3 linked regions of the Homo sapiens genome follow. The protein of the gene in region 1 interacts with the protein of each later gene in a pairwise test. Each region holds a gene or a part of one and is shown on either strand. Other genes may lie near its edges. The genes, in order: CPSF6, PPIL1 and UBAC1.

The links.
Region 2: the proteins of CPSF6 (region 1) and PPIL1 interact in binary tests that used the Homo sapiens proteins (3 or more experiments, as listed by UniProt).
Region 3: the proteins of CPSF6 (region 1) and UBAC1 interact in a two-hybrid assay, tested with the Homo sapiens proteins (2 studies listed by BioGRID and IntAct).

What each region holds. Positions count from the first base shown.
Region 1 is NC_000012.12:69,249,568-69,260,587, forward strand, and holds part of CPSF6 (cleavage and polyadenylation specificity factor subunit 6), read left to right. Parts: intron 1-1,561; coding exon 1,562-1,771; intron 1,772-3,483; coding exon 3,484-3,587; intron 3,588-7,129; coding exon 7,130-7,275; intron 7,276-8,164; coding exon 8,165-8,338; intron 8,339-8,467; coding exon of another isoform or gene 8,468-8,578; intron 8,579-9,022; coding exon 9,023-9,527; intron 9,528-9,860; coding exon 9,861-9,976; intron 9,977-10,476; coding exon 10,477-10,630; intron 10,631-11,020. UniProt on the Homo sapiens protein: Component of the cleavage factor Im (CFIm) complex that functions as an activator of the pre-mRNA 3'-end cleavage and polyadenylation processing required for the maturation of pre-mRNA into functional mRNAs.
Region 2 is NC_000006.12:36,854,329-36,861,823, forward strand, and holds the end of PPIL1 (peptidyl-prolyl cis-trans isomerase-like 1), read right to left. Parts: intron 2,327-7,495; coding exon 2,258-2,326; intron 1,706-2,257; coding exon 1,485-1,705; 3' UTR 501-1,484; downstream 1-500. UniProt on the Homo sapiens protein: Involved in pre-mRNA splicing as component of the spliceosome. PPIases accelerate the folding of proteins. Catalyzes the cis-trans isomerization of proline imidic peptide bonds in oligopeptides. Catalyzes prolyl peptide bond isomerization in CDC40/PRP17.
Region 3 is NC_000009.12:135,940,354-135,951,373, reverse strand, and holds part of UBAC1 (ubiquitin-associated domain-containing protein 1), read left to right. Parts: intron 1-3,468; coding exon 3,469-3,576; intron 3,577-5,002; coding exon 5,003-5,105; intron 5,106-5,376; coding exon 5,377-5,485; intron 5,486-6,123; coding exon 6,124-6,346; intron 6,347-11,020.

The sequences.
Region 1 (11,020 bases):
TTGTCTTTTTCCTTATGTCAGATGTTCTATGTCATAAGAATAAAATGGTTCACACCAATACAAGTACTTAGTTGTGGAAAGGGAGAGTAGAAGATAAAAATGGAGATTTTCCTGTGCTACAGGCTTAGTCAAGCTTATGGTCTATTTAATGGTTATCAAAGGCAATTAAATAGTGTTGAGTGTTCTGCTTTTACCTACATTTCATTTTTCATGTACTTAGTTACAAATTGAACCCTCTTCTATTTTTTTCCTGCTCCTGTTTCTGTTTCATTTTAGTTTTCCTTTTCCCTGATTATCATTTAGGCATGTAAGTGACACCCAGTAGCATTGCTTTAATTCTGCTGGTGACAGTGCCAAAGCTTTACTATACTCTTTTTGTTGTCTGTTGCTTTTCTCTTGCTAATTTGCTTGACTAGATAACTAAGAATTCAGGTAAGCATTAGCTCTTTGTTCACTGAGAATAATACAACTTGCAAGATAATTAATTTGGATTGTTCTACATGTATTTCGTTTATTTCTCTTTACCTTGTTCATTTATTACGACATTTTGAATTATTTACATACCCATATTTCTTCTTTCTTTTATGGCTCAGCTCACTATGCTTTTTTTTAATACTGGTAGCTTCCTCAAGGTTGGAAAACAAGATCTGAATACTATAGAAAATAATAACTATTTTTCTGTGGTCATATTAAAGATATAATGGCTTTGGATTTTGGGGTGATTTTTCTACTGTCAGTTTAAAAAAAACTTGTCTATTTGCATTTGTGTGTTATTACTTCTAGTTAAGAGTATTTCCAAGGAAAGTTTCATGTTACTTATTTTGTTTCCATGTCTTTTTCCAAAAGAACTTATTTTTTATATTATAATAAATATCAGTGGAAAAGTAGGTTTCGTTATATAGAAATTAACTTTAGGCTGGGTGCAGTGGCTCAAGCCTATATTTGGGAGGCCGAGGCAGGAGGATTGCTTGAACTCAGGAGTTCGAAACTAGCGTGGGCAATGTAGCGAGACCTGGTCTCTACAAAAAAAAAAAAAAAAAGAAAAAAAAGAAAAGAAATAAAGGAAACCCCCTTTTTTTGTTTTTTTGTTTTTTTTTGAGATGAAGTCTTGCTCTGTCGCCCAGGCTGGAGTGCAATGGCACGATCTTGGCTCACTACAACCTCCGCCTCCCAGGTTCAAGCGATTCTCCTGCCTCAGCCTCCTGAGTAACTGGGATTACAGGCGTGTGCCACCATGCCTGGCTAATTTTTGTATGTTTAGTAGAGACAGGGCTTCATCATGTTGGCTAGGCTGGTCTCGAACTCCTGACCTCAAGTGATCCACCTGCCTCGGCCTCCCAAGTGCTGGGATTACAGGTGTGAGCCACCACTCCCGGCAAGAAATTCACTTTTTAGACCTGTTCAAGAATACATCTATTGCATAAAGTGGAAAAAGATTTGTACTGAAATCCTTGGCCTTTTTCCATCAGATTTTTAAAACAAAAAGTTGAATTTGTATTCAAGTCTATTTTAGTAGTATTTTGACTTTTGTATAATCTAGAGCATTATTTCTGTATCTCAGGAAGCTGAATATGGTGGGCATGATCAGATAGATTTGTATGACGATGTCATATCTCCATCTGCAAATAATGGAGATGCCCCAGAAGACCGAGATTACATGGATACTCTCCCACCAACTGTTGGTGATGATGTGGGTAAAGGAGCAGCACCAAATGTTGTCTATACATATACTGGAAAGAGAATTGCATTATATATTGGAAATCTAACATGGGTAAGTGAAGTTAATATAAGAATTAAATTATTGGTAATTGATTTTGAACTGCTCTAGTAATTAATGTTTTTCTCCAGATTTTTATAAGTTTGAAGTTACTGTGTTTTTCTATATGTGTTTGCTTGTCCAATGAGGAGGGAAATACAAATATCTTTGCAACATCGTTAATTCGAATTCTTCTAGTTTTGAGTTTTGTGGTCATTCAACTTTTCTTGGTGGAGATACTAGTTAAATATAGTTAAATTAGTTTTGTCTTCAGTTACCTTTTTTATGCTACCACTTTACCTTGCTTCCGATAGCCCAGTTTCACTAAAAATAATGCTCACATGGGGTCTCAAACCAGGATTCAAGTGTAAAAGGAAAGAGACATAGTATCACTCCTGGTTTAAAAATAGTGTCCATTATTTAATTTGTGTTACAAATTTGAGTTTTATTTCTGCCCTTAAATTTGAAATCTGATTTATAGAAGCACTTCTGTGCGTATTATATTTTAATTTGGGTTGTCATGAGACTAAGATTATTGATTTAGAGCTTCATTAAATGCACATATGTATATTTATTTTTTATTAATATTACATCTTAAGTATCATTAAAATAGTCCTATAGAATGTTTGTATTTCTACTTAGTTATATGTATACTTGAAAGTTAAAAACTTGTATATGCAAAAATCAATAAAACTTGGCACCCTTGCATTTCCTTAATAACACTGTATTTTTAAACGTTTTATTTACATTTCTTTTTTTCAGGGGGAGACAGAATTTGCAAAACTCTGTCACCCAGGCTGGAGTGCAGTGGTGTAATCATAGCTCACTGAAGCCTCAAACTCCTGGGCTGAAGTGATTCTCCTGTGTCAGCCTCCAAGTAGCTAGGACCACAGGCATGTGTCACTCTGCCTGGCTAATTAAAAACAAAACAAACACTTTTGTAGAGCTGACTTCTTGCTATATTGCTTCAGGCTGGCCTCAAATTCCTGGCCTCAAGTGATCCTCCTAACCAAGCTCTCAAAGTGCTAGGATTATGGTGCCCAGCCTATTTACATTTCTTTTAAAACTAAATGTAACAGATCTCCCACCACCCAGTCTGAGTATTCTATAAAATTGGAGACAGTAGCAGTGTAGTTATGAAAGTATGGTTGCTAAGTAAGTATTTGGATCTTAGCTCCACCATCTATTATTAGTTTTGTGACCTTGTTAAAGAGTTAAAGCTCTTTAACTTCTATTGTATCATGTGTAAAATGGGTATAATAATAGTGCTTATATGGTTGTTATAAGAGTTAGTTGATACATAAAGTATATGGTAGATATTAAATACATGTTAGTTTTTTCTTATCTGCATTTTAATTCAAAAACAAGATGAAATTCAAAATACTTTCCTTTAATGGGAGGAAGTGAAATTGGTTTTATTCACAATTTAAAATCATAGCAGTTTAAAGCTGTAAGGGACCAGAAACTCTTGAGAGTCAAATCTTATTGTAACCCCAAGGGTATATACCTTCTAGTTTCTGAAATACTTATCAGGGAATGAAGTTAGGTTCCCAGATGGTTTTTGTGCTGTTTAAAAATTGGAGTCTGACTGGCCATAACTAGACTTAGATTTGCACTCAGCATTTATTTTCTCTTTTATGTCTCAAATTTCCCCTTAAAAACTAGACTGGGATAATAAAAATCTTGGTTTTATTTTAATGGTTAATGAGGGGGAAAATATCTTGCAGTGGACAACAGATGAAGACTTAACTGAAGCAGTTCATTCTTTGGGAGTAAATGATATTTTGGAGATAAAATTTTTTGAAAATCGGGCAAATGGCCAGTCAAAGGGGTAAGTTTTTTTTTTCTTTCTTTTTGATTTAGTAGCTAGTGATACAGTTTTTACAAGTTAACTTTCCTTTAAGTTAATGTTAATTACACATGTATACACATGTATACAAACAACACATGATTGTTTACATTGGAAGGAGGTTCTTGGGCAAAGATTGATACTTTTCATTTTACGTACCCTATTACCTAACACACTAAAACCAGTAGAGTGGAAATGTGGACAGATTTATTTTCTATTTTTCCCAAGTTTTCTCTATCTGTGGTTGAAATGGTTGTTGAAATGACAGTTTAAGAACCATTACTCTCCCTGTGATTAAGAGATGGGAGAAGATGGGCAACTGAATAATGTGTTACATGGATATTTTGCTTTATTTCACTACTAAACTATACAAGTGGGATAGCCTCAGCATGAGAACATTATAAATACAGATATCTAAAAGTAAGAAAATAAAATACCACTGTCCTACCATTCATTGATGTTTACTTTTAACATTTTAGTGAAGATTCTTTTGGGCTTTTTCCTAAAAATAAATAAATAAATAAATAATGGAATTATAATTCATGTGTTTTATATGTTTGATATAAGGAATAAAAATAAATACACATCCTCTCTAATGTCTAATTCTTTTGCATCATACCTGGTATGCTACTGTAATTTACCTTTCTTATTTTTGGTTATCGTGGTGGTTTCCACTTTTGCCTATTGTAAATAATGTTGCAGCAGACATCATTTTATATAAGTCTTTTGGTACAGATTTTGGATTTTCTTTTAAGGATAAATTGTTAGATGCACAATGATAAAGAATTTTCTTATTTCTTATATTGCTTACTTATCTTAGAAGATTATACCAATTTATACTAAACTGAGAATATTTTCAAAATATATGCAGAGTCTGAATACTTCTCACTAACTTTACTTATACCACTTGGTCAAAGCCACTATCATCTCTCACTTAAACTTTGGCAGTAGCTTCCTAACTGGAAGTATAGACTGCCCCCTACAGTCTGTACTCCACATAACAGAAGTTCTAAAAAAAAAATGACATTCTGCTCAATCTTCTCATGGTTTCCTGTCTGTCTCATTCTTTACCATTGTCTACAAGGTACTTTCTGGTCTGTTTTCCCACCACCTTTCTAACCCTATCCTACCACTCTTTTTCAGCCACATTAGTCTCTTTGCTGTTGGCCAGACCAATTCCTACCTAGGACCTTTAGCTGTTTTCTCTTCTTGGTTTACTTTTCCCCCTCAAATATCCACATGGCTTACTCTTTGACTTCATTCAGGACTCAAACTGTTTAAGAGTTTTCTTCCATGACCATCTTGTGCAAAGTAGCACCTTCCTATCCTGTTTCCTTTATTTCTGCTCTGATATATTTTACTCGTTTGTTGTCTCCTCTTCCAAGCCTTTAAGCTTAATGAGAACAGAGATTTTGTTTTGTTCTCTATTACTTCTCCAGCTCTAGAATGGTACCTTGCGTATAAGAAGTGGTGCTTAATAAATATTTGTTAAATTAATTTAGTTTTTTCTAAATGTTGTGACCCAAGATAATCCTGGTGCAAACAGCAGAACTTGTTGACTAAAATAAGAAGGATAATTTAAAAGATCATATTGAACATTAGGGGGAAAAGAGCTTAAGCTTCTTAAGCTACTAAGACCCTCCCTCCCTCAAATAATTTAGAATATCCTGTAACTATACGAATTGGTAATCATTCTGATTATTTTAAATTTGTTTTTCTTTTTGAGGTATAATTCATATGCCATAAAATGCAGGCTTTTAAATGTACAATTCAATGATAATTTATTATATTTATGAAGTTTAGCAACCATTACCACTGTCTCATTCCAGAACATTTCATCACTCCAAGAAGGAACCTTGTACCTGGTTAGCAGTCACTCCCATTTCCTCTCTTCCTATCTGCTGGCAACTGCTAACGTGCTCTGGATATGCCTGTTCTGGACATTTCATCTAAATGGAATCATAAAATACGTAGTCCTATGTGACTGGCTTTTTTCCTTAGCATAATGATTTTAAGGTTCATCCATGTTGAAGCATGCATCAGCATTTCTTTTTATGGCTGAGTAATATTCCACTACATGGATATAGCACTTTTTTCTTTTAATCTATCAGTCGATGGACGTCTAGGTTATTTCCACTTTTGGCTATTAAGGAAAATGCCCCTGTGAATATTTGTGTACCCATTTTGTGTGAACATGTATTTTCAGTTCTGTTGGATGTGTACCTAGGAATGGAATTACTGGGTTAATATAGTAACTCTATGTTTAAATGTTTGAGGAATTACCAGATTATTTGCCAGAGGCATTGTGCCATTTTATTAATACGTGCTCATCAGCAATGTGCAATGGTTCCAGTTTCTCCACATATTTATTTATTTATTTATTTATTGAGACAGAGTCTCACTCTGTCACCCAGGCTGGAGTGCAGTGGCGCAATCTTGGCTCATTGCAACTTCTGCCTCCCAGGTTCAAGCGATTCTCCTGTCTCAGCCTCCCAGCGTGGGACTACAGGCACACGCCACCATGCCTGGCTAATTTTTGAATTTTTAGTAGAGACGGGGTTTCACCATGTTGGTCAGGCTGGTCTTGAACTCCTGACCTCATGATCCTCCTGCCTTGGCCTCCCAAAGTGCTGAGATTATAGGCGTGAGCCACTGCACCCGGCCTCTCCACATCTTTAATACTTGTCTTTTTGATTATAGCCACCCTAGTGGGTATGGGGTGGTATCTTGTGGTTTTGATTTGCACTTCCCCAATAGTTAATGATATTGTACATCTTTTTATTGTAGCAAAAAGTGGAAGCAACCCAAATGTCCATGAACTGATGGATACATTTCTTTTAATGTTGTATATTTATAATGGAAAATTATTCACCCATAAAAGTAAGTGGTGATGCATGCTGTAACAGTGGATGAAGCTTGAAAACATGCTAGTTAAAGAAGGCTGGTCACAAGGGACCTCCTATTGTATGATTCCATTTAGATGAAATGTCTAGGATAGGCCAGTCCAGAGACAGAAATTAGGTTTAGTGGTTCCATAGGGTACAGGGATGGGAAGGAATGGGAGCGATGGCTAATGGATATGGAGTTTCTTTTTGGGGTGATGAAAATGTTTTAAAATTGATTATGGTGGTGGTTATAACACTGTGAAATACTAAAAACCACTGAATTATATATTTTGAATGACTGAATTCTATGGTATGTTATACAAGATGAACAAAAATGTGTACTCGTATAGTTAAGAAATATTTTTAGTTTTTAAAATTATTTATTTTTAGAGACAGGATCTCACTGTGTTGCCCAGGCTGGAGTGCAGTAGTGTGATTATAGGTTACTGTAGCCTCAAACTCCTGGGCTCAAGCAATCCTCGTGCCTCAACCTTCTAAGCAGCTGGGATTACAGGCATGAGCCACTGTGCCCAGCTGTTGTTTTAGATAAAAGCAGATTAAGACCTTTTTACAGAAGAATAACAGTAATAATATTGATCTCTTTTTACTTTGTATCCTCACCCCTTAAACACTTTTTAGGTTTGCCCTTGTTGGTGTTGGATCTGAAGCATCTTCAAAAAAGTTAATGGATCTGTTACCTAAAAGAGAACTTCATGGTCAGAATCCTGTTGTAACTCCATGCAATAAACAGTTCCTGAGTCAATTTGAAATGCAGTCCAGGAAAAGTAAGCAGTCCTCAGAGGCTTTTATTAAAATATGTACATTTTAACCAGTGCATTTGTTAGGTGTTATACTAGAGAAGTCATCTTAATACTAGCTCACTAGGAACTCCATTTCACAAAGTCCATGCTTTGAATTAGATTTAATCACTGGTTATGACTGTGGGCCTGTGTACGAGAAACCTACTCCTGTTCCATTTTTCTCCAGATGTAACAGACCCAATACTATACAACAATGTGCAAGTTCTATAGCCCTGCCATTCTTGTCCTATTATTTCCATCTTAGATACAGAAAGAAACTACATTCTAATTCTTAGATTAAAGGAGAGCTATGTGGATGTGTATTATGGTGGGGGAGAGATCACTGATAACCAGAAAATGTTCATTGATTTTTCTGCTTGGCAACAAGACCTTTCACCACTTGGTAAACTGAATATAGAAAAGATTTGTCATTATACATTTAAGTACATTATCTTTAAAGAGATGAGATGGATGATTATGTAATTAACAGAAATTCAAGTGGTTCCTTTTCTTTTAATGTTTTAGCACTTAAGACTTAACTGAAGAAGTGTGTTACAAAATTTAAATGATGTAATACTGAAATTAAGATATCTGTTGAAGAATTTCGGTCTTGGCTGCTGCAGAGTGCTGGTATTTTGAAAGTAACTCACGATTACCTATGGAAAATATATTTAAACCTGGATATTTTGAGTCTTTAAAAGTACCCAAATAGATGTGAATGTTTTCCTAAACCATACTTTCTTATGTAGTTTGCATAGGCACAAGGCATTTGCAAGTTAATATATTAGAAATAGAGTTGTTTTTAATAATAGTGGTTACATTTCAGAAAACTATTTTTAATAAGTGCTATTTATGAGTATTTGGATATTTGCAGCTACACAATCAGGACAAATGTCTGGGGAAGGTAAAGCTGGTCCTCCAGGAGGCAGTTCCCGTGCAGCATTTCCACAAGGTGGTAGAGGACGGGGCCGTTTTCCAGGGGCTGTTCCTGGTGGGGACAGATTTCCTGGGCCAGCAGGACCAGGAGGGCCACCCCCACCTTTTCCAGGTAAAACTTTTCTTAAATTACCATGGATAAAACATGTCTACCTAATACCTCTTTTCCTTTTCTCTCTTTTTCAAGTAATGCATTATTAATGTGACTTACTCTCCTTGTTATGCTATTTTTGGAATCCAGGAAATTTGATCAAGCATCTTGTTAAAGGAACTCGGCCTTTGTTCCTGGAAACTAGGATTCCATGGCATATGGGGCACAGCATAGAGGAAATACCCATTTTTGGCCTAAAAGGTCTTTATTTTTCTCCAAACTTGCTTGACTTATATATAGAATATTTACATCCGTCTTACTTTCTTACCTCTTAAAAAAATCCTTTCAAGATCATTTTTCCTTGTTTCACTTTCTAGCTTGGCATCAGAGTAGAATATAAGGTGGGTGATTTCACTGTAAGAAGTGTGTGTACACGGAAAGATGGAAAATATCTCTAGGCATTGTAATATTTTTTTATTAAAGTTTTCGTTTCAATAATTTTTCTTAAGCATAAATTGAGCTAGTTAAATTTGTAAGGATATACTTCATTGTAGTTGGTAGTGTAACATTTACCATACGGGTTTAATTTAAAGACAAAGACTTGGTGTATGCTCTATGCGTTTAAAGTATAATCTTGGCATATAAAAGTTAAAATATCTTATTAGTGAAGTGTTTTTTTTTCTCTCTTTCTCCTTTGTTTTTTAGCTGGACAGACTCCACCACGTCCACCCTTAGGTCCTCCAGGCCCACCTGGTCCACCAGGTCCTCCACCTCCTGGTCAGGTTCTGCCTCCTCCTCTAGCTGGGCCTCCTAATCGAGGAGATCGCCCTCCACCACCAGTTCTTTTTCCTGGACAACCTTTTGGGCAGCCTCCATTGGGTCCACTTCCTCCTGGCCCTCCACCTCCAGTTCCAGGCTACGGCCCCCCTCCTGGCCCACCACCTCCACAACAGGGACCACCTCCACCTCCAGGCCCCTTTCCACCTCGTCCACCCGGTCCACTTGGGCCACCCCTTACACTAGCTCCTCCTCCGCATCTTCCTGGACCACCTCCAGGTGCCCCACCGCCAGCTCCGCATGTGAACCCAGCTTTCTTTCCTCCACCAACTAACAGTGGCATGCCTACATCAGATAGCCGAGGTCCACCACCAACAGATCCATATGGGCGACCTCCACCATATGATAGGGGTGACTATGGCCCCCCTGGAAGGTAAGTTAGTGTGTATCTGTGAAAGTACTTGATGATAAAAGATAGGAACAATGACTGTAAATATTAGATTGTAGGTATATAAATATGTTATTTCTGCCTTCCAAGAAGATGAGGTGTTTAAGCTGCTACCCTGTTTTAGCTGAAAGATACTGGTATAGGAGAATTTTTAGATTTGTTCTCTTTGTTGGAAAAGTAGCATGCTTCAATATGGAAAAGTAACTACTATCTCTAAAGCACATGTCAGAAGCAGCTAGTATGAATTGCTATACACTGTTGTGACTAACTGAGGAAATCTGTTGAGTATGAGTTAAGGTTTATGTTTTTGTTTTACAGGGAAATGGATACTGCAAGAACGCCATTGAGTGAAGCTGAATTTGAAGAAATCATGAATAGAAATAGGGCAATCTCAAGCAGTGCTATTTCGAGAGCTGTGTCTGATGCCAGTGCTGGTTTGTGTATTTCTTGTATTAATATTTCTTATTTATGTTATTAGGAATGACCTAAAAATGTAAGTACAATCTAGAAGATAGGTCATTTACATGTAGTAGTTCTTTTTATATTCCCAAATCATTACCTACGATTTATTTAAAAAGCATTGAAAAAAGTTGTGTGTCACAGTGTAGTGGGGAAAATCCAAATTTTAAGTTATTTGGTATAGATTTAAGTCTTACCCTTGACATTTAATGGTTCAGGGGCCTCATGACACCTTATTTATTCTTATATTTGCAAAATGATAATGTGCTTCACACACGTATAATAAGTTGAGTCAATATCATGAGCATGAAAGGCTTTTGCAAATGGTGAAACACTGAAAGAAGACATTGTCTTGCATAGTTATTTTATAGCACAGTACTTTTGTAAAATGCCTTATCACTCTTATCCCAAGTGGTTTGATGGTGTTTTGAAAACAAAATTTGTTTGACTTCAAACCCTTTCCTTTCCCTCACAGGTGATTATGGGAGTGCTATTGAGACACTGGTAACTGCAATTTCTTTAATTAAACAATCCAAAGTATCTGCTGATGATCGTTGCAAAGTTCTTATTAGTTCTTTGCAAGATTGCCTTCATGGAATTGAGTCCAAGTCTTATGGTTCTGGATCAAGGTAAAACTTTCCTGTCTCATTTCCATTTAAAAAAACTGTTAGTTTACAAATGGAAAAAATACTGTGAGACTTTAAAAGGAGGACTTTGCTTTTACTTACTGATTATTTAGCAGCTGGAGTGGTTTTTTTTTTTAACTCTAAATGTTAGTTGCTTGCTTAAAACCCTTTAAAGGCTCCTACTCAGTCTTAAAGCAAGACTGTAAAGATTGAGGGACTGTGTGATAAAGCCCCTGCCTATCTTTTTAGCCTCATTTTGTACCTCTCCCCTTACTCACTGTTCTCCAGTGAGTATTTCTCCATATTTCTCCTTTTCTTTAGGTACACCAAATGTTTGACCACCTCACTTTATATTCCTTCTGCTGGGAGCAGTTTTCCCTGTCTCTTCACATA
Region 2 (7,495 bases), on another chromosome or scaffold:
TCATGGGGCATTTTCCCCCTGCATGCTGTTCTCACGATAGTGAGGGAGATCTCATGAGATCTGATGGTTTAAATATGGTGGTTTCCCCCGTGCTCGCTCTCTCTCCTGCCACCTTGTAAAGAAGGTGCTTGCTTCTCCTTTGCCTTCCACCATTATTGTAAGTTTCCTGAGGTCTCCCTAGCCATGTGGAACTGTGAGTCAATTAAACCTCTCTTGTTTATAAATTACCTAGTCTCAGGTAGTGTCTTTATAGCAATGTGAAAACAGATGAATACACCTCTTATTCAGAAATGTCAATTTCTGTCACTTAATTCTTTCTCTGGTTCTGCCCTTTTAAAGTTAGAATTGCTCTTAAAGAGGGAGAAGTCTACTGGAGATCCACAAGCCTAAAATGATGTGAAATCTTGAACATTCAATCTCTGTACTACTACTTAAGATGACTGGGATTAAAATGACCATTGGAACCTCATACAATATTTAGAATCAGACCACAGCAGCAATTTCAACCATCAATGGCATTTTATTGTGGAAGTTTCTATGTATTACATAGGTATTAACTTCCTTCCTCTCCTGCTCCTCCCCACAAAATCCAGAAAGTTATTTTTATACATAAACAACTGAACATATAAAAATCTTGGACCTAATTTCTCTAAAGTCTTGGGTTAAAAGAACTTGAGTGGCGCTTCTCCTTTCTGAGAGTACTACTTCTCAAGGAGGATTCATGGTCTGTCCTTTGCTCACTACAGATTTCTCCTCTTCTCTGGGAAAAAATGGTCAATGCTTCTGCTTCCTTTTAATAAACTAATTTCTTGATTATTATACATTATTATTATTCCCCACTTGACACCTTCTTAGAAACTTGATTGTTGGATGTGTTTTTCATTTGGCAAAAATTCAATGTGGCTTTGCGTGGGATGTCTGAAGTGTCAGAAACAGCACTGTTGATGTTCTGGTTTTGAGAGGGAAAATATATATAGAGATGCATACATTCCCTAGAAGAACAAATGTAAAAGACTGAAATAGGGCGTGCACAGAGTTAAGAGGGCTGACAGACACTACTTGGTTTGGAATTCTGTGGCTGTCAGCCATCAAGGACTGCTGTGTAGGCCAGAATATAAATCTCCTTAGGAAGAAGTTTGGTTAGGCAAAACCACTGAGAAATGACAGTGGCTGCTACATTGTTCGACGTATATCAGAGCAGACATGCACAAGAAGCAGCATTATGGTTCATGTGTAGTAAGTAGTCACCTATTGATAAACAGGGGCATTTGTGCAAATGCTCTGGCAACCTAGGCACTGGGGGAAGAGAAAAGAAGCATCCTATTAAAATGTACTTCCATCTCTAACTCACCCAAGATGCCAGGCCTCCTAAGCTTCATGACTTGCAAAGCCAAAATGAATTTAGCATTACATGTCATTCTATGTCATCTAGAAGCTGGTTCACTGGGGCCATCTCAGAAGAGCTGCTCAAGAGGGTAGCAAGTCTACCCAGAAGGGTATGCCTTAATGATCTTCACGTCGTCCACAGGGCGGTCCTGGGAGTTTGTTTCTACCATTCCCACGCGATTCACCATTCCTATGCCCTGACACACTCGGCCAAAAATGGTGTGTTTGCCGTCAAGCCACTGGGTGGGGGCGAGGGTCACAAAGAACTGGCTGCCATTGGTATCTGGCCCCGCATTGGCCATTGCGAGAATTCCAGCCCCTGGTGGGAAAAAGGAAGAAAGGAAAGAGTATAAATAACCCCACAGGTCCAGTGTAGAGCTGCTGCCCCATCCTAGGGATGAAAAAGCAGCCAGGACTTTGTTCTGGCCTCTGTCCAGACCCAGACAACCCCTCAGGGCAGTCTCTCTGCCCTGTACAAAGGCCATCACTACACTATTCTGGCGACTTCATCTTCCTTGTCCTCACCTATTCCCCAGCCTTGACCCCTGATGCTCCTCACTAACTGTGGACCATGTTCCTGACTGCCCTCAAAAACCCAGCAAGGTTTCCTGTTTCTTTGAGGACACTTTTGATATCCTGTGACCTTTAACAAGTAGTTAGAGTCTAGAACACACCGACCAGTGCTCTGAATTGCTCAGAACTTTGTGAGAGGCGCTGCTTTCTCTAATCCACCAGGGCACTTCATGGCGCCATGGCTGGGCAGCTATCTGGCACCATGCCACGGTGTCAGGCATTCACCTTGAATCATGGCCAAAAGAGTGAGCTTTTAAAATCCCCGTTCCTACCCAGTCCAGCCAAATTATACACTTACCCGTGAATTTCAAGTCTGGATGAAGTTCATCTTCAAACTGTTTGCCATAGATAGATGCACCACCTCGACCTGCCCGATTGGAAGATGACACATGAATCAGCCAGTCACACATTCTATCTCACAGCAAGAATGATGGCCCAGGGTCAAAGGATTTCTCAGAGTAGAGGAAAGGAAAAGGCAGTGACACCTACCCCACTGCTAGGTATATTGCAACTACAGAATCTAGCACTAATAGCACATTCAAATCATTGGTTTCATTCCGATAAGACTTTCCTTTTCAAAATAACGCTATTTTTTCCTGCACATTAAAATAATACATGTTCACTATCAAAAAGGTAGAAAACATAGAACATTATCAAAAGAACATTAAAATCCTCTGTAACCTGACCATCTAGAGATAACCACCATTCATAATCTGATGTGTTAAGAGGTTTCTTGATTTTTAACCTTTTTTTGAGTATTTTAGACATGAGTGCCCCAAGTCCTATCCCTGTGCCCATCACAGACATTGCCAATCAATCAGTATTCTTCCCTGCTGAGCTAGATTTGCCTCTGAATGTTATCAACCCAGAACTCAGGCAGCCGTTATTAATTAATCAGTAATAGCCCCAGAGTTGAAACCTATTTGCCACCCTTAACCTAGGTGATGGAAAATAAAATTCATTTAAGTTAAAGCTATCCAGCTGAAGGAGAAATAGCTGGTAAGTGGCAATGTGGCAGAAAGGGACATTACGGTCGGCAGAGTCCACTGAGAGGTGAGGCAGTACATCATTAAGAGAAAACAGGGCCAGGTGTGGTGGCTCACATCTAAAATCTCAGCACTTTGGGAAGCTGAGGCAGGAGGACTGCTGGAGGCCAGGAGTTTGAGCTGGGCCACAGAGCGAGACCCTGACTCCATAAATTTTTTTTTTTTAGAGATGGGGTCTTGCTACGTTGCCCAGGCTGGTCTCAAACTCCTGGCGTCAAGCAATCCTCCCTCCTTGGCTTCCCAAGTGCTGGGATTATAGGCGTGAACCACTGCACCTGGCTCACAAAAAAATTTTAAAATTCAGCCAGATGTGGTAGCACATGCCTGTAGTCCCAGCTCCTTAGGAGGCTGAGGCAGGAGGACTGCTTTGAGCCCAGGAGTTTGAGTTTACGGTGAGCTATGATCATGTCAGTATACTCCAGTCTAGGCAAGAGGCAAAACCTTGACTCTAAATAAATGAATAAAGGGAAAATGAAGAAACATGGGATTGGGAATTATTTGCTAGCAGCATCACCACCAAATGTTATTTATATTATGCCCACAAGAGCAGGGTGCTGGGCTGGATACCCTAAGCTCAGGCAGGTTTTGCTCTAAGAGCAAAAGGATGTAAGTTAGACCAGGCGCGGTGGCTCATGCCTATAATCCCAGCACGTTGGAAGGCCAAGGCAGGTGGATCACGAGGTCATGAGTTCGAGACCAGCCTGGCCAACATAGTGAAACCCCCATCTCTACTAAAAATACAAAAAAAAAATTAGCCAGGCATGGTGGCACACACCTGTAGTCCCAGCTACTTGGGAGGCTGAGGCAGGAGAATTGCTTGAACCCAGTAGGTGGAGGTTGCAGTGAGCCGAGATCATGCCATTGCACTCCAGCCTGGGCGACAGAGCAAGACTGTCTCAAAAAAAAAAAAAAAAAAAAAAAAAGATGTAAGTTAAACATGGTTTTCTCACAGGAAAACATGTCAAAACAGGAGGCAACTTTCCTAACCAATACTAATCAATTATGTAGTCAATCATATGCCTTACTGAACTACATTGGTTTCTCCAAGTTGAACGGTCACGACAAAACAGCCTAGAACAAAGTAAACACTGGATTGGTACTCTGCTTGCCCTGCAGCCCAGTGCTGGCAGCTCACTTCCTCTACTGCCTGCTATAAAAGTAGCACCAAGTCCACCCCCAAGGCCCCTGGGCATGGCTAAGGTGTTTCCATGGCAAAAATCCTTTGCTTTACCTTTTAGTCGGCTTCACCACAGGGAGCCTGTCACAGCCCCCGTTTCTTTTCCGGAAGAAAACACTGTTCTCATGCAAAGAGGGATGGGGGTGAATCCTAACAGACTAGGGGAAACCTCCCACTTGGCCCAGGCTACCTATGCTTCTGGAAAAATACTGAACCACACTAAACTGTGTAAAACTCATTCCAAAAATTCCAACCTGTCAGTATACTTCCAAACAGCAATTATATAACCAATATGTTCCCTCTGACTCAATCCTCCCCTTTGCTTGGTCCTTTGGCAACCACTAGAGAGTCAAGGTTCCTGGCTGGGGTTACCAGAGACTAGGGAGAGGGCTGTGGGGCCAGACGCCACAGAGGCCAGGCTCTGCGTGCAGGACTTGAGTGAGCAAGCTAAGGATTCAGTTCAGTAGTACGCTGTCAGTCTGTGGCCTGAGCTTCAAAGTGTGATCCCTGCAACCTGAGGGCTACCAGAACAAACCCCCCAGGACCCTGCCCTCTAGGAATGGTAAACTATCACACAAACATCACCACAAACAAGAAGTGCATTAAGGAATAGGTCAGTCAAGAGTCACAGATGGGCTGGGCATGGTGGCTCACACCTGTAATTCCAGCACTTTGGGAGGCCGAGGCAGGCAGATCATGAGGTCAGGAGTTTGAGACCAGCCTGACCAACATGGTGAAACCCCATCACTAATAAAAATACAAAAATTAGCCAGGCGTGGTGGCACGTGCCTGTAATCCCAGCTACTTGGGAGGCTGAGGCAGGAGAATCGCTTGAACCTGGGAGGCAGAGGTTGCAGTGAGCTGAGATCGCACCACTGCACTGCAGCCCAGGCAACAGAGTGAGACCCTGTCTCAAAAAAAAAAAAAAAAAAAAAAAGTCACAGATGAAGTGGGAATCAGAGGATACAGGAGGAAAGAGCATGGAGATCACCTTTACTCAATAGGCAGAGTTTTCATAATATCTTACTCATAATATGTTATCTTTTCATAACCCAATTCAACTCAGTAGGGTTTGCGGCAAAATTTCAGAAAGACAAATCATTCTAATTCAAACATTCCTCTGGGCACGTGGAATAAGTGAGAGGTGGCAGAGGGACAGAGAATGATTAAAGAGTTCTCCAGTGCAGAGCATGCTACTCAGATGTCAATTATCAGTTAGAAAGCCAACAATTTGGAAGCTTTGCAGGTTCTGTGCCTGGTCTAGCACAGACACAATGAAGATAGGCAGACCTGTTTTCTATTGTGTGTGTGTGTGTGTGTGTGTGTGTGTGTGTTTTGAGACAGAATCTCACTCTATCACCAGGCTGGAGTGCAGTGGTGCGATCTCGGCTCACTGCAACTTCTGCCTCCCGGGTTCAAGTGATTTTCCTGCCTCAGCCTCCTGAGTAGCTGGGACTACAGGCGCCCGCCACCATGCCCAGCTAATTTTTGTATTTTTAGTAGAGATGGGGTTTCACCATGTTGCCCAGGATGGTCTCAATCTTGACCTCATGATCTGCCAGGCTCGGCCTCCCAAAGTGCTGGGATTACAGGTGTGAGCCACCACACCCGGCCAAGACCTGTTTTCTAACCTTTGATTACAGGTTAGAAAAGAACCTTCAAGATTCTTTTCTGGCCAGGTACAAGTGGCTCACACCTATAATCCCAACACTTTGGGAGGCTGAAGGGGGCGGATCTCTTAAGCCCAGGAGTTGAGACCAGCCTAAGCAACATGGTGAAACTCGTCTCTACAAAAATTAGCCAGGCGTGGTTGTGCGTGCCTGCAGTCCCAGCTACAGCTACTCAGGTGGCTGAGGTGAGAGGATCACTCAAGCCCAGTAGGTCGAGGCTAGAGTGAGCTGTGATTGCGCCATTGCACTCCTGTCTGTCTCCAAAAAAAAAGAGATTCTTTTCCTCTTCTGTCCTCTGTCCTCTCTTGGGATCATTTATTCAATGTATTTATTTCAGACACGCAAACATACAAAGAATAATATGACCAATATCTATGACCACCTCCGCCCCCAAGAAATAAACTATTGCAAATCCAGCTAAGACCCCATGCATACACCCCACTGCATCTCTCCCCACCACTCATTCTCCTGAGAGCTAACAGCTGATTCAAAGAATCACATTTTCCTCTCAGGTAACCACTATTCTGACAAGAATTTGGCATTTCCATGCATTTTCTTTTTTACTACACATATATGTATCCCTAAAAAAAAAAAAAAAAAAGTATTGCTGTTTTGCATGTTTTTAAGCTTTTTTACTACACATCTATGTACCCCTAAAAAAAAAAAGTATTGTTGTTTTGCATGTTTTTAAGCTTACATAAGTGGTATTACACTTTATATATTCTCAACACTGTTTGAGAGACTCATCTACTTTGTTCCAGGCAGGTCTCTGTAGTGTTCACCTCACTGTATGACCATAATGCTCTGTCTTATCTTTTCTGGTGTTGATACTGAGGATCTTTCCAATGTTTTGGTTATTATCGACCATGCTATAAAAACTATTCTTATACTGTCTCCGAAATCCAAGTGCAAGAGCTCTCGGGGGCCAATACCTCACAGGGGATACACAGGGTCATAGTTTGAGTATTTCATCATTGCTAGATTTTTCTAAGTGCCTTATTGAAAAGGATGAACCAACATGCACCCCACCCCGCAGCACTCTCACTCTTACTGCTCTAGGTCCTTCTGTCAGTCTGAGAAGTGTGAGACCTCTTGTGGTGTTTTAAACTGCATTTCTCTGAAGTTTGGCATAATTTCATGTTTACTGGCTTATTTAGCTTGTCCCCTCTGTGAACGGCCACTCAGTGGTATGACATTTTGGAATTGATACATACAGTCATCCCTTGGTATACTCAGGGGATTGGTTCCAGGATCCCTGTGACACCAAAATCCCTGCTCGCTCAAGTCCCGCTGTGGGCTCTGAGAAAACTGTATGGACCTCCATGGTTCAAACCCATGTTGGTAAAGGCTCAACTATATACTATAGATACTAATCCTCTGTCAGTGAATGTTTTGCAAATACCTTCTCCCAGTTAACTTTTTTCACTCTTGTAATGGGATCTTCCAATGAACAGAACCTTTGCAGTTAACATTTCTTAACCTTCTTCTTTATGATCTGTGTTTTTTTTTTTTTTTAATTCCTTTTTTTTTTCTGAGACAGAGTTTCGCTCTTGTGGCCCAGGCTGGAGTGCAATGGTGCCATCTTGGCTCACCGCAACCTCCGCCTCCCAGGTTTAAGCAATTCTCCTGCCTCAGCCTCCCGA
Region 3 (11,020 bases), on another chromosome or scaffold:
GGACCACAGGTGTGTGCCACCACACCCAGATAATTTTTGTATTTATGAATTAATTTTTAAGTCAAAGTGACGTATGTTTTTAAAAGGTCGAATAATACTACAAATCTTTTAATAAAAATTAGCAGTCTTGGCTGGGTGCGGTGGCCCACGCCTGTAGTCCCAGCACTTTGGGAGGCTGAGGTGGGAGGATCACTTGAGTCCAGGAATTTGAGACCAGCCTGGGCAGCATGATGAAACCCTGTCTCTACAAAAAATATAAAAAGTTAGTTAGGCTTGTTGGCACAAGCCAGGCAGTGCACACCAGGCTGGAGTGTGTGGTACGATCTCACCTCACTGCAGCCTCTGCCTCCTGGGCTTAAGTGATCCTTCTCCCTTAGCCCCAGGAGTAAAGCAGCTGGGACTATAGGTGTGTGCCACCACACCTGACTAATTTTTGTATTTTTTGTAGACATGGGGTCTCACCGTGTTGCCCAGGCTGGTCTTGAACTCCTGGGCTCAGGTGGTCTGTTCACCTTGGTCTCCCAAGTGTTGGGATTACAGGCGTGAACCACCATGCCCGGCCCAACCACTCATAACTCTTGTTATTTTTAACAATTCTCTTCCTGATTTATAAATAATATGTGTATATTATTATTCCTTGAATGACCAACTTTAGTCTCTATTGACTTCTTAATGAAGAGGCTATAGTACCTCCCTCTCTCCTCCCTTGAGGGTTAGATCATAATGTTGAAGATCTCAGGGTTTTCATTACTAGTATAATTGAAGTGTGGTTTTCAGCTGTGAGCAAAATAGATTAAGATTATCTATCCTTCTTACACAGCTGTATTTTTCCTGGAATTAATATTTGCCTCTTCCTTTTGTTTGCTTGTTGAGTTTCTTATAGGCTTATCGCTGATTTTTTCATGCTCTTCCACAGAGCCGATAAAGCTTCTGGAAACGTGGTCACAGATGTTAGGTCACTGGGGTGTTCCCTCCCTCCAGATCCCTCTGGCCTGCGCATCTGTCTGAGTCGCTGCCTTCCAGGCCTGCTGCACAGCCTGGCTTTCCTGCCTCTTTCCCGTGTTAGAGTTTGCTAAGTCTATGCAAGTTTTCCGTTGCCACCTAACAAATCGCCACACATGTAGCTGCTTAAAACAGCACTCCGCTTGTAGCTCGCAGTTCTGTAGGGCAGAAGTCTGGCTGGGTGAGCTCAGCTGGTTTCTGTGCTCAGGGTCTCGAGCTGAAATCAGGGTGCCGGAGGGCTGTGTTCAGGGTGCTGAAGGGCTGCCTTCCTTTCTGAGGCTGGGGAAGATTCTGCTTCTGAGGTCTTCCGGCGGTTGGCAGAGTCCAGTTCCGACCCATTTTCTTGCTGGCGGCCAGCTGGGGGCTGCTCTCAGGGCCTGGGCGCGGCCTGCATTCCTACCCGCACAGCCTCCTCCTCCTTCAGAGCCAGCAACAGGACTTCTGAAGTGTTGAATCTCTCTTTCCAGAAAGAGACCCATCCCTTTTAAGGACCTGCCTGATTAGTTGAGGCCCACCAAGGATCATACTCTTTCCCCACAGTCGGCTGTGCCGCGTGATGTAACCTGACCCCAGAGTGGACTGTGTCCTGCTCATGCTGTGCAGCCACGCACGGGCAACTGCCAGGCCCGGGGAGCGTGCGGCCGTCCTCGAGTTCTGCCTGCCGCAGGACCAGGTGTCTTGTTCTTCTCGATCTGTCCCTTGGTCTGGTGGAGCCTGACTTCCTCGGGTGCCAGGAGGGGAAACTGTCTGGAGGCCTCGTATTCCAGCGCAGCAGCTGTGGAGGGGGTGCCAGCCGTATGCAGTACGTGAGGCAGCTCTGAGCCGCTCCTCCCTGCACCAGCCGCCTCCCCTTCCTCTGCTCCTTGTAGAACCTTCTGCCATCTGGTGTGCTTTAGTGTTCTGGAATATTCCATGGTGTCTCTGCTGCAGGTCTTTTTCTCTTTGCTATGTCCGGCACATTGACTCTGGAGATTCAGATGTTTGAGTTCTGGGAAATTTAGTCCTGGAAAATGTTCTGAATTGGTTTTTTGATCTCCTTGTTTTCTTTTCTCTTTCTGTAACTCTTATGAGTTGGCTGGTAGGCGTGTTTTCTGAGGGATTCCTTGATTTTATCTTCTAAGCATTCTGTAGCCTCTTTGATCTGGCTGTAACATGTTTAAATTCCTAGGCCAGTTCTCCTCCTCAGATGATGTCTTCTAGTGTTCTGGTGTGTTCCTCCGTGGGCCGTCTGTCCTGGCTCATAAACACTATCCTCTTCCCTGCTGACTCCTCACTTTGTGCTGCTTTCTGTTGTTCCTTTTTTTTTTTTTTTGAGATGGTGTCTCACTGTCACTCACCCAGGCTTGAGTGCGGTGGTGTGATCTCAGCTCACCTCCCAGGTTCAAGTGATTCTCCTGCCTCAGCCTCCCGGGTAGCTGGGATTACAGGTGTGCACCAGGACACCGGGCTTATTTTTGTCTTTTTAGTAGAGATGGGGTTTCACCATGTTGGCCATGCTGGTCTCGAACTCCTGACCCCAAGTAATTCACCCACCTTGGCCTCCCAAAGTGCTGGGATTACAGGCATGTGTCACCTTCCAGAGGCCCTGGATCTTGATAGCAGCGCTTTGGGACTGGGTGGCTGGCTGGGGCACTGCGCTTTGGGTGTGGACCCTGCCATTTTGCCCCCTCCCACCTCTTGGCTGTGTCTGCCCCGCTCCCCTGCCACTGGGTCTCCCTGTGGAGGGTGCTGGGGTGCCGCTTTCCCTCTCATGAGCCTAGGGCTCCTGGCCCGGGGTCTCAAGCCCAGCTCTCTGGGAGTTGCCGGCAGGACTGGATGGCAGGGGAGCACAGGGCAGGGTGGCGGGGGATGGAGCGCTAGCTCCTGAGGCTCGCTCCTTGTCCCCTGCCACCGATGCAGTTCTAGGAGGCTGGAATGGTCTTGCGTCCATGCTCTGCTCTTGGCCTGAGCCTTTGTAGCTCCGCTGATCCCTCCATCCTCGTCCTCTGCCGTCTTCTGAGAATGTGCTGTCACTCTTCCGGTTCTGTTCCTCTCCCATCACTTTTGTTCTCGTGAGTTTCTACTGCCATGACTGCCCTTCAGGAGCTTCCAGAAGGAGCAGAGATGAGTTCGTGGTTTTGGCCTCGGGGCTCAGCTGCAGCCTGGGTGGTTCTTCTGGAGTCGCCTCCCTTGCCCCAGCCCTGCCACGGTCCCTGTGTGGTTGTCGTTCTGTGACCCTTGCTCCTGCTCTGCCCCTCACCTACCGCTTCACTCTTATTTACGTCAGAGCAGACGCTGAGGACACGTCTGCTGTCCCTGGGCCTTGCACAGAACTCTCCAGGCTCCCCCAGCTCATCAAGGAGTTTACACCTCTGGCTCCTAAAGGAGACGGAGTCTTTCTTGGGCAGAGCTCCGCTGATTCAGTTGTCATCGTCTTTTTGCTGCTCTTACGTTCACCTCAGACTTTCTGATTACGTTTCTGTGTAGAAAAAACAAGACCAGAAAGCTCCAGATAAAGAGGCCATACTGCGGGCCACCGCCAACCTGCCCTCCTACAACATGGACCGGGCCGCGGTCCAGACCAACATGAGAGACGTGAGTGTCAGCCCAGAGCGGCGGCGGGTGCATGGGGTCCCCGTGTGGGGGATTGCTGTGGGGGGGTTCCTGCGGGGCGGGGCAGCAAGAGGAGATTCTCTGGGAGGATTTGGGGAAGCCGGTGAGCGGGTCTGTAGGACTGCACTATTTTGCATTTTTTCTGTAAATCAAAAATTATTTCCAAGTAAGAGTTGGAAAGCCATCTGAAGGCAGGATTGAAAAGATAGATACCCCTGGGAAAACGTCAATCCGGCCCTGAGTTTGGCAAAACGTTTAGATAGAATTCTGAACCCGAAGCGGGTGGATCACCTGAGGTCAGAAGTTCGAGACCAGCCTGGCCAACATGATGAAACTCCGTCTCTACTAAAAATACCAAAAATTAGCCGGGCGTAGTGGCAGGCACCTGTAATCCCAGCTATTCAGGAGGCTGAGACAGGAGAATCACTTGAACCCGGGAGGCGGAGGTTGCAGTAAGCCGAGATTGCATCATCGTACTCCAGCCTCGGCAGCAAGAGCGAAACTCCGTCTCAAGAAAAAAAAAAACACACAAATCTGAACCCGTGAGTTATTTTGGGTCAGAACATTCTAAGTTAAAAAAGAAAAGTGTTTGCAGTGCTCACGTGGACGCCGCAGCAGGCAGGGCAGGCACGTGCTGTGCCGGGGTGGGAGGACGGCTGGCTTCCAACTTCATCTGATGCCAGTCCAACCTAAGGGCACTGCTATAAGCCCTGTTTCATTTTAGGAATGAACCTCTTGGGGTGTCTTCCAGAGAGTTCTGTGCTGACCAGGGCATGGTGGCTTTTCCCCAGCAGCCAGCATGTGTGTCTCCCATCCTGTGTGTGTCCGGCTCAGAGGTATTTCTCTAGTGTGGTGTCCGCACCAAGGCTCACACTTGTGTGAGAGTAGGGACAGCTGACGCCTGACCTCTAGGCCCTGTAGCCAGGAGCTGTTCTGGAGGGCATCTCCGGTCCATCCCACGGCTCCTCCTGCCTGGGGAGGACAGTGATGGCCGCCGCAGACGCTGTGTGGCAGCCATGCCTCCACTGGGGGCTGGCAGACTCATGGGGGTGGAGCCTCAGATGATTCTGTTTTCTTCAGTGAAGCCAGAGAGGGTCTTCAGCTTGCCCTGCACCTGCGCCAGCTGGGCCGACGGTTTCCTCACAGGGCACAGGCTGAGTATCGGGCCAGCACTGAGTGACCGTCACCAGGCGTTCCTGTCCCTTTCCACTGGCTTCAGTCCCACCTGCAGGGAGGCTCTTGGCCCTGCCAATCCCCTGCCTTGCCCTCAGCTGATCCTGCTGTCTTGCAAGAAAGCAATGTCATCTCAACTCTCAGAATCAAGAGTTCTAGGACAGGGGAGCAAGTCATAGATCCAAGTAGGTTTGGTGGACATTTAGAGAATTGATCTCCTTTTTTTTCACCACAGTTCCAGACAGAACTCCGGAAGATACTGGTGTCTCTCATCGAGGTGGCGCAGAAGCTGTTAGCGCTGAACCCAGATGCAGTGGAATTGTTTAAGAAGGCGAATGGTATGAGTCAACCCCGATGCTGCATTCCAGGGCGGTTCACTGCCGGCCTTGGGGAGCGTCTGCAGCTCCACGCACTGACCACTGACCGGAACCTCAGTGCTTTATGGAAGCGCTGATGAGGGCCTGGGGCCTGCCTCACCGGCAACTCCTGTTGATGTGCCTGAGGGCGGGCAGGTGGAGCTCAGACAGATAATTGCTGCAAATGTTTGTGCTCAGATAAGGCCCCTGAACCTGAGGCTGGAGCCCTCATGGCCCTGTCGTCTCCCTGCAGCAATGCTGGACGAGGACGAGGATGAGCGTGTGGACGAGGCTGCCCTGCGGCAGCTCACGGAGATGGGCTTTCCGGAGAACAGAGCCACCAAGGCCCTTCAGCTGAACCAGTGCGTGGGGGGCCACCTCCTTCCCTTGCCGGAGACACCTGGGGCCTGGTTTTGTGGGGCTCCCACCGTGGGTGACGTCCTCCTACCCTAAACTCTTTGACTGAATCATTTCTAACGTGGGGTTTTGAAGAGGTACCTTAAATATGTGCCTCCAAAGTGTTTTTGGGGTGAATGTGACAGAACAGTCGTTGTGTAAATTCTCTTTGGGCCGTTGTATGAGAACTCAAGGTGAATCCCGTTCGTAGCAGGGACACGGCCTCTAACAGTCTTCTCAGGATTCCCGTGTGAGTTACTTGCCCTGCTTCTGTGTTCAGATCTAAAATGAATAATCCGAGATCCAGGGGCAGCCGGGGGCAGTTCCCCCTGTGGTCCCTATCTAAGCCCTCAGCAGATATCTCTGGGTCCGCTTGCCTCTCCTTAGACATGGGCTTCTGATTCTGCCCAGGGTCTCAAGGTAGTCTGAGGCAAGGACCAGCGCTTCCGTCGCACCTGTGTTCATTCAGGTTCTTGTTATAAGGGTCACCAGCTGATGCTGGAGAAGTCACTACCATAGCAGAGGCTCTTCTTGGGAATGGACAGGAGGCGAAGGCCCTGGTCCGTTAGTCTGGGGATGTTGGAAAGAGTCTCTTGCCTTGCAGCATGTCGGTGCCTCAGGCCATGGAGTGGCTAATTGAACACGCAGAAGACCCGACCATAGACACGCCTCTTCCTGGCCAAGCTCCCCCAGAGGCCGAGGGGGCCACAGCAGCTGCCTCCGAGGCTGCCGCGGGAGCCAGCGCCACCGATGAGGAGGCCAGAGATGAGCTGACGGAAATCTTCAAGAAGATCCGGAGGAAAAGGGAGTTTCGGGCTGATGCTCGGGTATGTGTTACTAGACCTGTCGCCAGGCAGAGTCGCTGTGTCTTCCCTTGAGGTGGCGCCATGGAAAGGAAGCTGGGGCTGCATGGCTGACCTTGGGCTGAGCTGGCTCCTGTCCCAGGAGAGAGAGAAGCTGGGGAAGGGGTTTACAGGTGGGCCTGGGAAATGGCGAGCCTGGGGGCGGTGGGCCTGGGGACCGTGGCCCGAGTTTCTGAGCACACCTGTAAGTTATCCTGGCTTGAATCCAGGCGCCCCAGTTTCCTCTGTGTTGCCACATTCGTCACCTTTTGAAAAACTTGATATTTTACAGTTCCTTCTGACCACTCATCCACAAGCCCCCCCTGTTCGGCAGCCTCTCTGCGGGGTGGGGGCCCTGCCCAGAGACCGGGAGGGTCATTTGCCGTCGGGGGTGTCCATGAGCGAGGGGCCGCTCAGGCTGCCAGCCGCCTCCATGGCACAGTCTGCAGGGCTGAAGGGTCCCTGCGCCTGTGTGTGTGGACCTTCCTCGCCCGCGCCTCATCTCCCCATTCTTCCTTCTCTCTCCTGTTCTTTGATTCGGGTTTTACTTCCTCCTTGGAGGTTTCTGTCTGTCTCCGACATGCTCAGATGGCAGATCTGCTCCATCTGCATGCTGTCGTCTCGTGTGGCACTGATCGTTTCCTTGGGGTGTGTGACATTGTGCTGTGGCCTCACCTGCGGAGCTCGTGTTTTCCATGGAGTTCCATGTGGCCAGGCTGTAGACATCCACCTGGGGTGATTCTGAGTTTGCTTCTGCTGGTGATGAGTGGGGCCCCTGCCCCACCATGTCCCGCAGTGTAACCCCCGGCTTCGCAGCTCAGGTCTTCCCTGCACAGGGTTCCGTGGAGACAAATGCTTTTCTTTGTTTCTTTTAAAATTTAATTTAATGTTAAGTTCTGGGATACATATGCAGGATGTGCAGGTTTGTTACATAGGTAAACATGTGCCATGGTGGTTTGCTGCACGTGTCAGCCCATCACCTAGGTATGAAGCCCAGCATGCACTAGCTATTTTTCATGATGCTCTCCCTCCCCCAGACCCCCTGATGGGCCCCGGTGTGTGATGTTCCCCTCACTGTGTCCATGTGTTCTCATTTTTCAGCTCCCACTTATAAGTGAGAACATGAGGGGCTTGGTTTTTTGTTCCTGTGTTAGTTTGCTGAGGACAGTGGCTTCCAGCTTCATCCATGACCCTGCAAAGGACGTGATCTCGTTCCTTTTTATGGCTGCATAGTATTCCATGGTGTATATATCCCACATTTTCTTTATTCAGTCTATCCGGTTTCTTTTCTTATCCGTGGGCATTTGAGTTGATTCTATGTCTTTGCTATTGTGAGTAGTGCTGCAGTGAACATACGTGTGCACATATCTTTATAACAGAATGATTTCTATTCCTTTGGGTATATACCCAGTAATGGAATTGCAGGGACAAATGGTATTTCTGTTTCTAGGTCTTTGAGGAATCACCACATGTCTTCCACAGTGGTTGAACTAATTTACATTCCCACCAGCAATGTAAAAGCGTTCCTATTTCTCCACAGCCTCACCAGCAGCTGTTGTTTCTTGACTTTTTAATAATCATCATTCTGATTGGCATGAGATGGTATCTCATTGTGGTTTTGATTTGCATTTCTCTAATGATCAGTGATGTTGAGCCTTGCTCTGTCGCCCAGGCTGGATTCTTCCTGCCTCAGCCTCCTGAGTAGCTGGGACTACAGGCACACACCCACCACGCCCAGCTAATTTTTGTACTTTTAGTGGAGACAGGGTTTCACCATGTTGGCCAGGCTCGTCTCAAACTCCTGACCTCAAGCGATCTGCCCGCCTCGGCCTCCCAAAGTGCTGGGATTACAGGTGTGAGACACTGCGCCCGGCCAACTGTCTTCTTTTGAGAAGAGTCTGATCATGTCCTTTGCCCACTTTTTAATGGGGTTGTTTTTTTCTTGTAAATTTGTTTATTCCATGTAGATTCTGGATATTAGACCTTTGTCAGGTGAATAGATTGCAAAAACGTTCCCTTCTGTAGGTTGTCTGTTCACTCTGAGGGTAGTTTCTTTTGCTGTGCAGAAGCTCTTTAGTTAGATCCCATTGAGACAAATGCTTTTCTAGTCTATTTTCTCATCTTTTCAGGGTCCTGTTTTAAGTAAGGGTCTCAGTTCCCACTCCCTACCTCCCATGGGCCCAAGGCGCACGTTCTGTCTGTGTGTAGACATCAGACCCCGCCCTCCCAGGGCAGCCCCTGCGCACACCCTCTCCCAGGGCTAGCTTTCTGTCTCTTCCTTCTTGGGTTTCTCACTTGTGGATATCCCTTTCTTGTGAGGTTAGCTCTGCATGTAAAAGTTTCTCTTTTTTTTTTTTTTTTTGAGACAGTTTCACTCTGTCACCCAGGCTGGAGTGGCGGTGGCACAATCATGGCTCACTGCAGCCTTGACCTCCTGGGCTCAAATGATGCTACTTCAGCCTCCTGAGTAGCTCTTACAGGCACGCACCACCACACAGGGCTAATTTTTTATTTTTTAAAATTTTGTACAGATAGGGATCTCCCTGTGTTGCCCAGGCTGGTGTTGAACTCCTGGCCTCAAGTGATCCTCCTGCCTTGGCCTCCCAAAGCGCTGGAATTACAGGCATGAGCCATTGTGCCTAACCTAAAAGCATTTTTGTTTTATTTTCATCTAGCATTTCTAGGTTTAGCAGGAAGTTTGTCTCGTTGTGCTTGTCTCCTAGGGAGCCAAGTTTACATCTGATCCTGGAAGCCTGTCCAAGTGGAGCAGTCACTCTCCAGCTGGGTCCCTTGTGCTCTGAGGTTGGACTTCGCACTCTCGTGTGTTGTGGTCCTGCACGGTCTCTTGGAGGTTGTTAGTCATATACTTTCTTGCCATCTTAAGCCTTTTTGTTAAATATGGATGCTCATTCTTAACAATCTTAACGTGCTCGTTTTCCTAAGATCTTCCCCATTGCCATTCCCTCCCGTCATCTCTCTGTGTCAGAACAACATTCCGTAGAATGTCTTCTTTGATGAAAATCATCACAAGGTGGTCAAGGCTTGAGGGGCCAGCCCATCAGTCCTCCTAGCCTTTGGTTTCTGTACAAGTCATGAGATCAGGCAGTCGTCCAGTAGGGATCGAGATACTAGCTTTGTTACTGAGAAAGGATTGGAGAGCTCTGACTTGAGGCCAAAACAGATTTCCTGCTGCCCCTCCCTTCCCAGTGGTAGACAGGATGCCTGCTGTCCGGGGGCAGAGCTGGCAGGGCCCGACGTCCTGCAGCCCGTGAGCGCAAGGCCCCTCTCCCATTGCCCACAAGCAAGTCTTTGCCCCCATGGGCTGGGAGGGAGGGCAGGGACTGCCAGGTGTTGCCTTGGGAGTACTGGGGCATCATTTCCTGGGCTGAGGTAGAAATGAGCGACAGTACTTCCTATTGAAGCTAGTGAGGAGGGCATCCTGTCCTTGAATTCAGTAGATTCCAGGCTATTCTGTATGACTTTGATATCAAAATATTGTGCGGTGGGTTCTTCCAGAGTTCATTGTTGGAGCTCCTGGATTAGGGTGTGGCTCAGGAAGGCAATTGTGATGGACCATAAATAGAAAATACAGAGTTTTTTCTTTTTTGAGATGGAGTCTCACTGTGTCGCCCAGGCTGGAGTACAGTGGTGCGATCTTGGCTCACTGCAACCTCCACTTCCCAGGTTCAAGCGATTCTCCTGCCTCAGGCTCCCGAGTAGCTGGGATTACAGGTGCCCGCCACCACGCCCAGCTACTTTTTGTATTTTTAGTAGAGATGGGGTTTTCCCATGTTGGCCAGGCTGGTCTCAAACTCCTGACCTCAAGTGATCCTCCCACCCCGGCCTCCCAAAGTGCTGGGATTACAGGCGTGAGCCACTGCTCCCGGCTGGGACTTTTGACCTGATCATGCACACAGTTTAGCTCTAGCCAGCATCCTTCCTGAGCTCCACCCCAGCTGAAGTCTTTTTCTGCCAGGTTCTCTTGGAAGCATCTGATGGTGCAGTCCAGACTGGCTGTGGACGTGCACCGTCCGCGGGGTGCAGTGCTGCATGAAGTCAGCCTGGGTGGTGCTGGGAGCTGTGTGGGGCTGGCACCCCTAGACCACCTTATGGTGGCCGGAAAACTGCCAAAGATGGAGAGGACTCTGGGGGCTTCAAGAGAGTGGGATCTGACCTTTCAGGGATTAGGAGAGGCCCTTGAAATTTTGATGAAGCCTTCATCTTACTTATTTATATTTTTTCAAAATGGACCCCTTTAAACATTGTGGTATAAATCTCCAGAGTAGAGGATGTATTATCTTGTTACATGAATTGTGTCCAGAAAATGTATGTCCTTCCCCAAAAACGAATTAGCATATGTTCAGTTGTAGCTTAAGTTTTGTTCAATATTAAAAGTTAAAAAATTAGTTTTAGGATTTTTTTTTTTTTTTTTTGAGATGGAGTCTCGCTCTGTCGCCCAGGCTGCAGTGCAGTGGCGCGATCTTGGCTCACTGCAAGCTCCGCCTTCCAGGTTCATGCCATTCTCCTGCCTCAGCCTCCCGAGTAGCTGGGACTACAGGCGCCTGCCACCACGCCCAGCTAATTTTTTTGTATTTTTAGTAGAGACGGGGTTTCACCGTGTTAGCCAAGATGGTCTTGATCTCCTGACCTGGTGATCCG